Homo sapiens: one gene and its partners. The protein of the gene in region 1 purifies or fractionates together with the protein of each later gene. This does not show direct contact. Each region holds a gene or a part of one and is shown on either strand. Other genes may lie near its edges.

Region 1 (3,650 bases):
AGTCCACCGCTAGTGTCTCTTGAGCTGTGTTCTCGAACATGCCTGGGAGGGCTGGCTACAATGGGCTTCTCGCCATGCAGCTCCTGGCTCCTTTCCCTCGATGGGGAAGGGTGAGCAGCCCACCATGGAGCACTGTGGAATGGCTGAGTCTGCACAGAGCGGGAGGGGAAGTGAGGTGCGCAGAGCCATGTGTAGGCGGCAGCTGTTCGATTGGTTTAAAAGACAGTTTTGCTCTGGGTAACTGCGCACACAAACCCCCACAGATGGCCGAGGGTTGCACTCCAGGTGGCTGTGTCTGCAGGGACAGGGATGGACATAGTCTGTGGGGCCCAGGCCTTATCTGAAAAGCATCCCCCATCCTCTCTGTATCAGCTCAGCAATTGAGGGCATAATTAAAAATGAAACAGCTATCCAGATGCTAGCACAGGATGTCTGCCTAAGTGGGCAAGCACTTGGCTACCCGGTCCCCTAGCTCAGCCTCAGGGCGACTCAGGCTCACCAGACAAGACTTGTTGCAGCCACGTTCTCTGTCCTTGTGACCACAGCCATCAGGGAAGCGACAGGGCTCCTGGTCTCCAGTGTTCTCCCCGAGTGCTAAGACCTTGGGGCCCTTGCAGTGCTTTCAGAGCTGGCCGGACTTCCCCGCAGGGTTTGCTCCCACCTTCCCCAGTGGCTGTCCCCTGGGCTCAGCTGCTTTTGTTCTTTATCTGCTCCAAACTCCTCTGACCAGGAGCACGCCTGCTGAGGTAACTGGGGATTTCTGCAAGTGCACTCCGCATTGGCCAGCCACTCCCGACTCAGGCTGCTGACCCTGGGCCTGGGTCTGGCCAGTCCAGTTGGGAGTGTCCCACTGACGGTGGGGTTGTCCGTCCTTCTCCCCCACAGGCCGGTCAGTACGGCGTGGCCCAGACTAGGAGGCGGGCCATCATCCTGGCCGCGGCCCCTGGAGAGAAGCTCCCTCTGTTCCCGGAGCCACTGCACGTGTTTGCTCCCCGGGCCTGCCAGCTGAGCGTGGTGGTGGATGACAAGAAGTTTGTGAGCAACATAACCAGGTAGGTGGCCCCCGTCGCTCCTCCACACACTGCCGAGCAGGCCTCAGTAGCTCATGGGGCCCGTGAGTACTCCCTGGTGAGGCTTGGGGAGGAGAGGATGGTACAGCATCTGCCCTGCCACACGGTGCTCTGCCACATGGCACTCTGCCACCTGTGGTCTCCAGTTCTGACCCTGCATCATCTGCTTCCCTAGTAGATAGCATGTGCAGAGCGGCCAGCCGCATGCTTGGCTGTGGTCATCCACAAAGCCCACGCCATAGCCCCATCCCCCCTTCCAGATGGCATCCAGGCACACTGCCACCCATGTGACCTCGGGCAGTGCTGTGATCTCGGGAGAAGGCCATCTGAGCAGGCAGGGGGTGGCACCTGTGATGAGGGGACAGCTGCTGCGTGCATCTCCAGAGGTGTTGACCTCCTCCTCTGTTGCAGGTTGAGCTCGGGTCCTTTCCGGACCATCACGGTGCGAGACACGATGTCCGACCTGCCGGAGGTGCGGAATGGAGCCTCGGCACTGGAGATCTCCTACAACGGGGAGCCTCAGTCCTGGTTCCAGAGGCAGCTCCGGGGCGCACAGTACCAGCCCATCCTCAGGGACCACATCTGTAAGGTAATGGCACCCTGACAGAGCGGCTCCTCCTCGAGGCCCAGCCCAGCAGCCTCGTGGGAACAGTCAGCCTGCCCAAGACTCAGGGGAGACATGGAATCTGATCCCAGGCTCCTCCTCCCGAGTCCTCAGCCTTTGTGTGACCCCTGGTCTCTCTTGCATGGTCATGGGAAGTGTCAGAGCTCCCGCAGTCCTGGACTTGGTCTGGAATGGTGTCAAGCCACTGCCCACCCACCACTGCCTTCCCCCTTGCTGCCTCTCCCCGCATGTTTTCCCAGGATGCCAAGACCAGCCCTTTCACCATCCCCTGGCACCACTCCCCTTCCCCCACCCTAAAGGCTCAGCTTAGATTCCCACGCTCTCCTACACCTGCGCTGCCTCAGGTCCCTGCCGTGGCCTCGAGCCAAGTGCGATATCCCTGACTGTCTCTTTCCCGATGGGCGTGAGCCCCAGGGGGCTTCCTGGTCACCATGGTGTTCCCAGCTCCCAGCCCACCATGGATGCTCGGATGCTGCTCACATGAGGTGACAGCTGGGCCCCCCACACTCTTTCAGGACATGAGTGCATTGGTGGCTGCCCGCATGCGGCACATCCCCTTGGCCCCAGGGTCAGACTGGCGCGATCTGCCCAACATCGAGGTGCGGCTCTCAGACGGCACCATGGCCAGGAAGCTGCGGTATACCCACCATGACAGGAAGAACGGCCGCAGCAGCTCTGGGGCCCTCCGTGGGGTCTGCTCCTGCGTGGAAGGTGGGTCCTGTAAGTTGTGGTTCCCGGTGGGCTGAGGGGAAGGAAGGCAGAGCCCTGGGCCTTTGGCCTGTGAACCTGGAGGCCAGGGCAGGGCACAGACACACCAAGCCTGGGTGTCCCAGAGAAGGTAGCTGCTGACCATGTTGAGTAGTAAAAGCAGGCTGGGTTCATGGCCCACACCTATAATCCCAGCACTTTGGGAAACCAAGGCGGGAGGATCACTTGAGCCTGGGAGGTTGAGGAGGCTACAGTGAGCTGTGATTGTGCCATTGCACTCCAGCCTGGGAGACAGAGTGAGACCCTGTCTCTAAAAAGAAAAAAAAAAAACAATAAATAAATAATAAAAGCAGGTCAGGCACGATGGCTCACCTCTGTAATCCCAGCACTTTGGGAGGCCAAGGCAGGCAGATCACTTGAGATCAGGAGCTCGAGATCAGCCTGCCCAACATGGTGAAACCCCATCTCTATTAAAACTACAAAAATTAGCCGGGCGTGGTGTCGCACGCCTATAATCCCAGCTATTTGGGAGGCTGAGGCAGGAGAATCGCTTGAACCCCATAGGCAGAGGTTGCAGTGAGCCAAGATCATGCCATTGCACTCCAGCCTGGGCAACAGAGCGAGACATATAATACTAATAATAAAAACAGTGCCCAGAGAACGAGGATTGTTGGCTGCTCCACCCCAGGGGGCCCCTTGCACAGGAGGTGCCATCTCTGCCTCCCAAAGCTCTAAGAGCCACTGTCCCAAGCCTATACCCCATCCCACAACTGCAGCCTCATCACTGTCCTGTCTTCCAGCCGGCAAAGCCTGCGACCCCGCAGCCAGGCAGTTCAACACCCTCATCCCCTGGTGCCTGCCCCACACCGGGAACCGGCACAACCACTGGGCTGGCCTCTATGGAAGGCTCGAGTGGGACGGCTTCTTCAGCACAACCGTCACCAACCCCGAGCCCATGGGCAAGCAGGTAGGTGGGGAGGGGGCATCCGAGGGCCTGGGTCAGGCCCTGTACTTGGCGGCCTAACTAGGTGGAAGTGTGGGTTTAGCCAAGTGGGGGACAGCACCCCAGGACCCCAGGCACCTGGCCTCTGCCTCCTGCCCCTCCACGTCCACGGGACAAGCTCATAGGCCAAGGCCATGGCCGTATGCTGTCACAGTGCCATTTCCCTCCCTGTCCCCGACGGTGACCCGGCCTGGGTGCTACTGCCCTCGCCCACCGCGCCTCTTTCCCCCAGGGCCGCGTGCTC
Region 2 (3,650 bases), on another chromosome or scaffold:
CTCCTGCCCTGTGTTTGGTTTCAGGCCAACATAGCCGAGGTAGAGGTCTCCATCCCTGCCAAGCTGCACAACTCCCTCATTGGCACCAAGGGCCGTCTGATCCGCTCCATCATGGAGGAGTGCGGCGGGGTCCACATTCACTTTCCCGTGGAAGGTTCAGGAAGCGACACCGTTGTTATCAGGGGCCCTTCCTCGGATGTGGAGAAGGCCAAGAAGCAGCTCCTGCATCTGGCGGAGGAGAAGGTGAGCATGGGGAGGGAGCGTGACTCTTGGCAGGAAGCCTGGTCCTCAGTACAGTGTTCTCGCTTCTCACTGTGGAAACCCCTGAATGCCCTTCCTTTGTGGCGGGTCAGAAAACAGCTCTATAATGTACTGTTTATGCGTCTTTGTTTTTGCTGTTACTGGAGGGCCTTTCCAGGTCCAAACGCTCACATATGCAATATATAAAAGTTGGTCTTTGGCTTATTAGTTTTGGGGTGCTTTTGTTTTTTAAATATGATTTACAGTAAAATTGGCCATTCTTCAGGTATAGTTGAGTTTTAAGTAACATGCAGTCATGTGACCACAATCATCAAAATTCATTTTCCATCACCCCTAAAGATTGCCCATGGAATTGCTGTTGTCCTTGTGTCAAAACCCATCTGTGGGTATGTTTCCGGGCTCTTCTGGTGACACCAGGTTTATGGGAAGTCTGGAAATCAGTAGTGTGAGCCCTCTTAACTTTGGCTGTTCTACACCCCTTGCTGATCAGCCTGTCAATTTGTAGGAAAAAAGCACTTTCACGTTTTGATTGGGATTGTGTGAAATTTGAAGATGAGACTGGCGAGGATTGACAGCTCAGCAGTTTTGACTTTTGCAGGCATTTCTCCATTTTTTTTAGGTCTGTGATTCTTTATTGGTGTTTTATAATTTTTAGCACATTTTTATGTTCGACTTAACAGATCTAACTACTGTTACTCTTTTAGTGCTATTGTAAATGGCACTTTTTTTCCATTTCCAGTTGTTAGCACATGGAAGTGCCTGTGGTTTTTGTATGTTGACCTTCACGAGGCTGCTAAATAAAGCTCATGTATATTAGCGCCAGTCACTGTTTTGTGGATTTTTTTTTTTTTTTTTTTTTTTTTTTTTTTTTTTTTGAGACGGAGTCTTGCTCTGTCGCCCAGGCTGGAGTGTAGTGGCGCAATCTCGCCTCACTGCAAGCTCCGCCTCCTGGGTTCACGCCATTCTCCTGCCTCAGCCTCCCGAGTAGCTGGGACCACAGGCGCCCGACACCTCACCCAGCTAATTTTTTGTATTTTTAGTAGAGATGGGGTTTCACAGTGTTAGCTAGGATGGTCTCGATCTCCTGACCTCGTGATCCGCCCGCCTCGGCCTCCCAAAGTGCTGGGATTACAGGCGTGAGCCACTGCGCCCGGCCCACTGTTTTGTGGATCCTTATTTTATATGTCACAATCACGTGGTCTGTGGACAGTTACATTTCTCTCTAATCTGGAGCCTTGTATTTCTTGTCTTTTTTGTTGTTGTTATTAGATTGATGTTTTTGTCTTTGTGTTTAACCAGCCTTGCGTTTCTGGGGTAATCCCTGCTTGGTTTGGTAGGTTGTCTTTGGCCATATTGCTAGATTGCATTTGCCTAATTGATTGCCTAATGTTTGACTAATGCTGCTATTTGTGGATGTCTTTGAAAAGTAGCAGAGTCTCTAGGTGGTATTTGGTGAAACCTGCACTTAAAAGGTAGCAAAGTTGTTATTTAATATTTTTGTGCTAGCATGTTTTTCTTTGGTATTTTTGCTTGCGGGCCAGATCTTGGGTCCGGAGAAAGGCAAGAGCTCCCCGTGTGGACCTGAGTCCCGTGGAGCAGCGCCCTTCTCGGGGCCCCTGCGTGGGTCTGCCAGAAGCACTGGTGTCCACAAGCAGTGTCCGGGGCCTTTCCAGGACCCTCGTTTTCTTACTGCCACACAAGGGCGTCGCACTACACGAGGCCTCTGAGGACCGGTCTCTAACTGTAGCCTTGGTTGGCTTGTGTCCCTCTGAGCTTGAGCTTGAGCCTGGGGAGTGGCTGGTTTTGTGGAGGCTGATCTGTAGCACTCGTGGGAAGAAAGGGAGCCTGGCCCAGATTTGTGTGTGCTTGGTCTGGAAGCAGGTAGAAGAGTGGGAGCATGGTGCACACCTCTTGGGCAGCTTGCTTCCTGCTCTGCTGGGCACACCCCACGCTCCCCAGGACGTGCACTCCGCCAACATATCGTCCGGCGCGTTGCTCCCACCTCCCCCTGTGCAGATCAAAAATGGCTTGGAGAAGTTTGGTCAGTGCTTGTAAGTGGCAGGACCAGGGTTCTAAGCCTGTGTGTTCATCCCACCAGCATCTGGTTGTTGTGGAAGAGAAGTAGGTGTGCAGTCTGGGTATTCATCTGTTTATTCAGTGAGGTGTGCTAGCCCCATTTTGGGGGTATTGGTGCAACATCAGGACACTGGTGACAATGTAAGGGGAGCCCGAGCTTGCTGTCCTACAGACCCTCTTGTCTTCCTCACTGTGGTCCAGGCACGTGGTGTCAGGCTAACACAGTGGGATTGGTTTCTGCAGCAAACCAAGAGTTTCACTGTTGACATCCGCGCCAAGCCAGAATACCACAAATTCCTCATCGGCAAGGGGGGCGGCAAAATTCGCAAGGTGCGCGACAGCACTGGAGCACGTGTCATCTTCCCTGCGGCTGAGGACAAGGACCAGGACCTGATCACCATCATTGGAAAGGAGGACGCCGTCCGAGAGGCACAGAAGGAGCTGGAGGCCTTGATCCAAAACCTGGTAGGGAGCGGGCCTCGGCGGCCGACTCTGCTGGGGCCGTGATGGGGTGGCTTATCTTCCATCTCTTCTTAACACTGCAGGATAATGTGGTGGAAGACTCCATGCTGGTGGACCCCAAGCACCACCGCCACTTCGTCATCCGCAGAGGCCAGGTCTTGCGGGAGATTGCTGAAGAGTATGGCGGGGTGATGGTCAGCTTCCCACGCTCTGGCACACAGAGCGACAAAGTCACCCTCAAGGGCGCCAAGGACTGTGTGGAGGCAGCCAAGAAACGCATTCAGGAGATCATTGAGGACCTGGTAGGCACTTGGGTGCTCGGGGAGGGGTTCTCACCCCCCAGTGGCCACTCACCGAAGCCGTGTATGAGTGTTCGCTCCACCCTGTAGGGAGGTGACTCCCTCATACAGCCCTGGAAGGCTTCAGAAGGGGCTTTCTGGTGCTCGCTCTTCTTTCCTCAGCCTGTCTGGCCTCCTTCCTGATAGTTGGTGAGAATTCTGCCTGCGAGAAGCACTTAAAAAAAAAAAGAGAGAGAGAAGGAGAAGAGGAGAGGGGAGAGAGAGAGAGGAAAGAAAGCAAGAGAAAGAAAGAAAATGCATTCTGTATAAGGGATCAGGAAAAATGAAAATGCAGTCTAAGGGGTCAGCTCTCTTCTCCCCTCTGTGAAGGAAAGAAAATCGATTTGAGGGCATCCACGTGAATCCATGGGAAGTCATGAGAAGACGTGGTCTTTAGAAGCAGTCTTTAGAGAGTGTCCCCTCCAGGCCACTCCCCTGCCAGGGCCTTGGATTCCCTTTCCCTAATAATCAAGTCTGATGCCTCCTCATGGAGTCAGAGGCTACCCCAGGAGG
Region 3 (3,650 bases), about 20 Mb from region 1:
TGATATTAAAGTATTCAGACAGTTACCTTGATTTTTTTCAAATACCACGGGTAAGGGTAAAAGAACTTGTTGCCAAAGTAACTCAGGATACCTTATTTCAAACTACATGTAACCTATTTTGCTATAGATACTCTAAACAAATGAACAACTAGGTTTTAGGATGTAAATTCCCATTTCCTAGACAGGGCCTAGTCTTTCTGTTGCAATCTGGCAGCTTTAAACTTTGAAACCCTCTTTCCAGTTTCTTCAGATGCTTCCAACAGAACTTCCTTTCGTTCTGGAATAGTGGGTAGTGCGGGATGAGCAATGGCTGGGGGTGGTGTTAAGGAAGGTGATACAAATTCTTTTTCTATAACAGTTCCAGAAAAAGCCTAGAAAACAAAAGTCAGGTTATGGTAATAAAATGCAAATAAGACACCCACAAAATCTTCCCATTCACTCATTTGGCAATTCTTTTCATTAAAAGTAAATTCACGAGATTTTTGGCTAGACAACACTACTACACCAAAATACTAATTGTTCAGAGAAACCAACACCATTAAGTTTTAATTTCACCACCAAACAGAAGTAATTTTTACAGTATACATGCAAGAAAACAAAATGTAAAATGTAAATTTTATCTGGGAAAAAAAAGAAATGGATAAATAAAAGGTCTTCAAACTTTCATACATTCCATTCATGTCCAGCCCATGCTGTGAAAAATAATGTATTAAAATAAAAATGCTATTAGGGTGTCAAACTCTGACTTTTGTACATCAGTTGATGAATGAGCTATCCTATGATGGCCTTGCTGCCTGCTAGCCAATAGCTTAGTTTCACCAGTACTGACATTTCTAACTGATATCTCTTTGGTGGTGTTTATGCAATTATTTAAATATTTTACTGCATATTGCCTCAATTTTAAAAGATCAGTGGAAGTTGAAAAATAAAAGTGCTGATACTAGTAGGAATAAGTACAGGTTTCAAAATTTTAATATAATTAACTCAATGACAGAAATCAGAAGTTCCACAAAAAAAGAAATGACTCAATTTCACCTGGATGTTTGCTGCATTTAATCTGGTCAACTATATGTTCAACTGGAACAGAATTAAAGAATGTGCATAAATTGCTGGAAATATCTGTACATGTCGTTTTATACAAAAATAGGTAAGACACAAGGAGTTAATTTTTTTTTTTTTTTTAAGATTGCTGGTATTTAGAACCTCCATCCTTCCCTCTACAAATGAAAATTTGACAGGTGAACTTTAATGTACATTTTGTTCTCCTCTGTCTACCAAGTGCTCAAAATTAGTTAAAACAACGTAACACCTAAATAATTTAAAAAGCCACCTTCTTCTACCTTGCCCCACCACTGAAACAAAAACAAAGAAAGCCATCTCTCTCCTACATTATTTTTGGAGTTCAACTGGTAAAAGCAGCTTAAAGCTTACTTTCCTAAAAACTCCACTTTATCACGATGAGCATAGAGCCTTCTTCTCCTTCTTCTATTTAAAATGCCTTTGAAAAAGAGGTATTTTAGCATTTAAAAAGATACTGAAAAGGATATCTTCCAAAGTACTTACCATAATCATGAACTATTTCTTTGATGTTAAAAAATGTATAGCAACTACTATTAAACATTTCCATACAAAATGCAAAGCTACTAAGGGTGAAATAAAAAATAGGTTCCACACTCTAGCTGTACCATGATACACTAAGTCCTTACAAAAAACTAATTTTCAAACATTTATCAGCAATTACCTGATAACATCCATTACCTGTTTTCTAACAGTATGGAAGACTATCAAATAAGGTAAGATACTTTCCAGGTCACCTAAGATCATTATACTAAGAAGAGGGGAAGAAAACATTCTAGTCATATGTACTGTCCCTAAATGCTACCAATCTCCATCCCCAATTACCATTTAATACACTGAGTATAATACCATTTAGTAAAAGCAATGGAATTTTTAGATAAGGTTATATATATGCATGTATCTTATTGTATATACAAATGTGTACACTGGTTTGATCCAGGCATGGGTTCCCCAATCTTCCTAAATACTTTTTAAATTGAAAACTTCAAATACGCACCAAAACACAAGAATGAAGAAATCAATAGCCTTATATTTCACAGACATCCTTATTTGGGGATTTCCTAACCTCCCCTGCACCACCACCAAAAACTGTAAGAAGTGTGGTGGGTGAAAGTGTATTGAGTGTGCACTATTTTTTCTATGGACAGGGTCTACAGCTTTCATCAGATTATAAAACAATTCCATAATCCCCCAAGAGTTAAGTTTCACTGGTACAAGGTAAAATATTAGACTTTAGGTAATTATCTGCTATGCATGCATTATTTTTCTTTAACTTAGCCAAGGTATTTAAAAGAGAATAATGTAATCTGCTCCTTACACTATCAGAAAATGACCTACTGGTAATTTATTTAAAATAAACTGCGAAATAATTTCCTAGCTACAAATGTAATACATAATGCCAAGTAAGACATTTTAAATTTCCCATTTTGCTGAAATAGAACGTTAAGACAAGTAATGTGTTTATCAAAAAATAAACTATTTGATTATCACAATATTTGTACTGTTTGTGACTATTAATTTTTTATTAATTAGTACCAAGAAAGTATAAAACCTAGAATTAATTTAATCTTATGACTTTTCAGATTAAATAGCTAAAACTGGTCAAAGATACTATATGAAATAAAGAATTAAAAGATACACACACACACCTCAGGTGTTACTGATAAGGGCAAAAGTTTCTTTTGATTTTCTTGTGGTTCCTCTTCCAAAATGCTCTCACTGGTGTCACTGCAAGTGGCTTCTTCGCAGCTGATACTCCTCAAAACTCCCCGCCTATCATCAAATTCAGCAGCACTGCTTTCACTAGTGTCGCTACACACACTATTCTCTCTACTTCGAGACTTCAGGATGGATTTGCGAGGGACATATTCTCCATTCACAACATCAACAAAGGCTCTGTGATATTCAAAACACATATGCATTCACTATACGTAACTCATAAAACTGAGAACAACTTTTTGAAAATTTCCTTGAATCTATTCTAGAAATTAATCTGAAAATTTTTATTACAATCTTATATCTAAAATAGTCACAATCACAATAATTTTATAGCCTCAAATGGTATCTTCATACTATTTTGAAAGCTATTTCTCTGGCCTAATAATAAAACACAGCATGTTATTTATTTATTTTATTATACTTTAAGTTCTAGGGTACATGTGCACAACGTGCAGGTTTGTTACATATGTATACATGTGCCATGTTGGTGTGCTGCACCCATTAACTCATCATTTACATTAGGTGTATCTCCTAATGCTATCCTTCCCCCCTCCCCCCACCCCATGACAGACCCCGGTGTGTGGTGTTCCCCACCCTGTGTCCAAGTGTTCTCATTGTTCAATTCCCACCTATGAGTGAGAACAAAAACACAGCATGTTATTTTTAAGCATGTCCTAGGTGGCAATAGCATGGTTTGCCAAAATTCTACATAAAGTTTTAGACCCACGTATACATTTAGCAATTTTCACTGATTTATAAATAAGGGTCATAAAAACAGTAGGTATTTTCAAGTGATAGTTTTCTCAACAAACAATTCCAAAAAAAAGGAAAAAAAAAAAAAACCTGCAACAGTA

What was found.
Region 2: the proteins of DNMT1 (region 1) and HDLBP purify together in Homo sapiens (affinity purification with mass spectrometry; 2 studies listed by BioGRID). This does not show direct contact.
Region 3: the proteins of DNMT1 (region 1) and URI1 purify together in Homo sapiens (affinity purification with mass spectrometry, with the first as the bait; one large-scale study listed by BioGRID). This does not show direct contact.

The regions. Positions count from the first base shown.
Region 1 is NC_000019.10:10,135,841-10,139,490, reverse strand, and holds part of DNMT1 (DNA (cytosine-5)-methyltransferase 1), read left to right. Parts: intron 1-885; coding exon 886-1,052; intron 1,053-1,481; coding exon 1,482-1,659; intron 1,660-2,210; coding exon 2,211-2,406; coding exon of another isoform or gene 2,407-2,415; intron 2,416-3,203; coding exon 3,204-3,370; intron 3,371-3,638; coding exon 3,639-3,650. UniProt on the Homo sapiens protein: Methylates CpG residues. Preferentially methylates hemimethylated DNA. Associates with DNA replication sites in S phase maintaining the methylation pattern in the newly synthesized strand, that is essential for epigenetic inheritance.
Region 2 is NC_000002.12:241,239,053-241,242,702, reverse strand, and holds part of HDLBP (vigilin), read left to right. Parts: intron 1-24; coding exon 25-243; intron 244-2,394; exon of another isoform or gene 2,395-2,580; coding exon 2,581-2,802; exon of another isoform or gene 2,803-2,882; coding exon 2,883-3,101; exon of another isoform or gene 3,102-3,201; coding exon of another isoform or gene 3,202-3,312; intron 3,313-3,650. UniProt on the Homo sapiens protein: Appears to play a role in cell sterol metabolism. It may function to protect cells from over-accumulation of cholesterol.
Region 3 is NC_000019.10:30,011,608-30,015,257, reverse strand, and holds part of URI1 (unconventional prefoldin RPB5 interactor 1), read right to left. Parts: intron 2,974-3,650; coding exon 2,727-2,973; intron 372-2,726; coding exon 189-371; 3' UTR 1-188. UniProt on the Homo sapiens protein: Involved in gene transcription regulation. Acts as a transcriptional repressor in concert with the corepressor UXT to regulate androgen receptor (AR) transcription.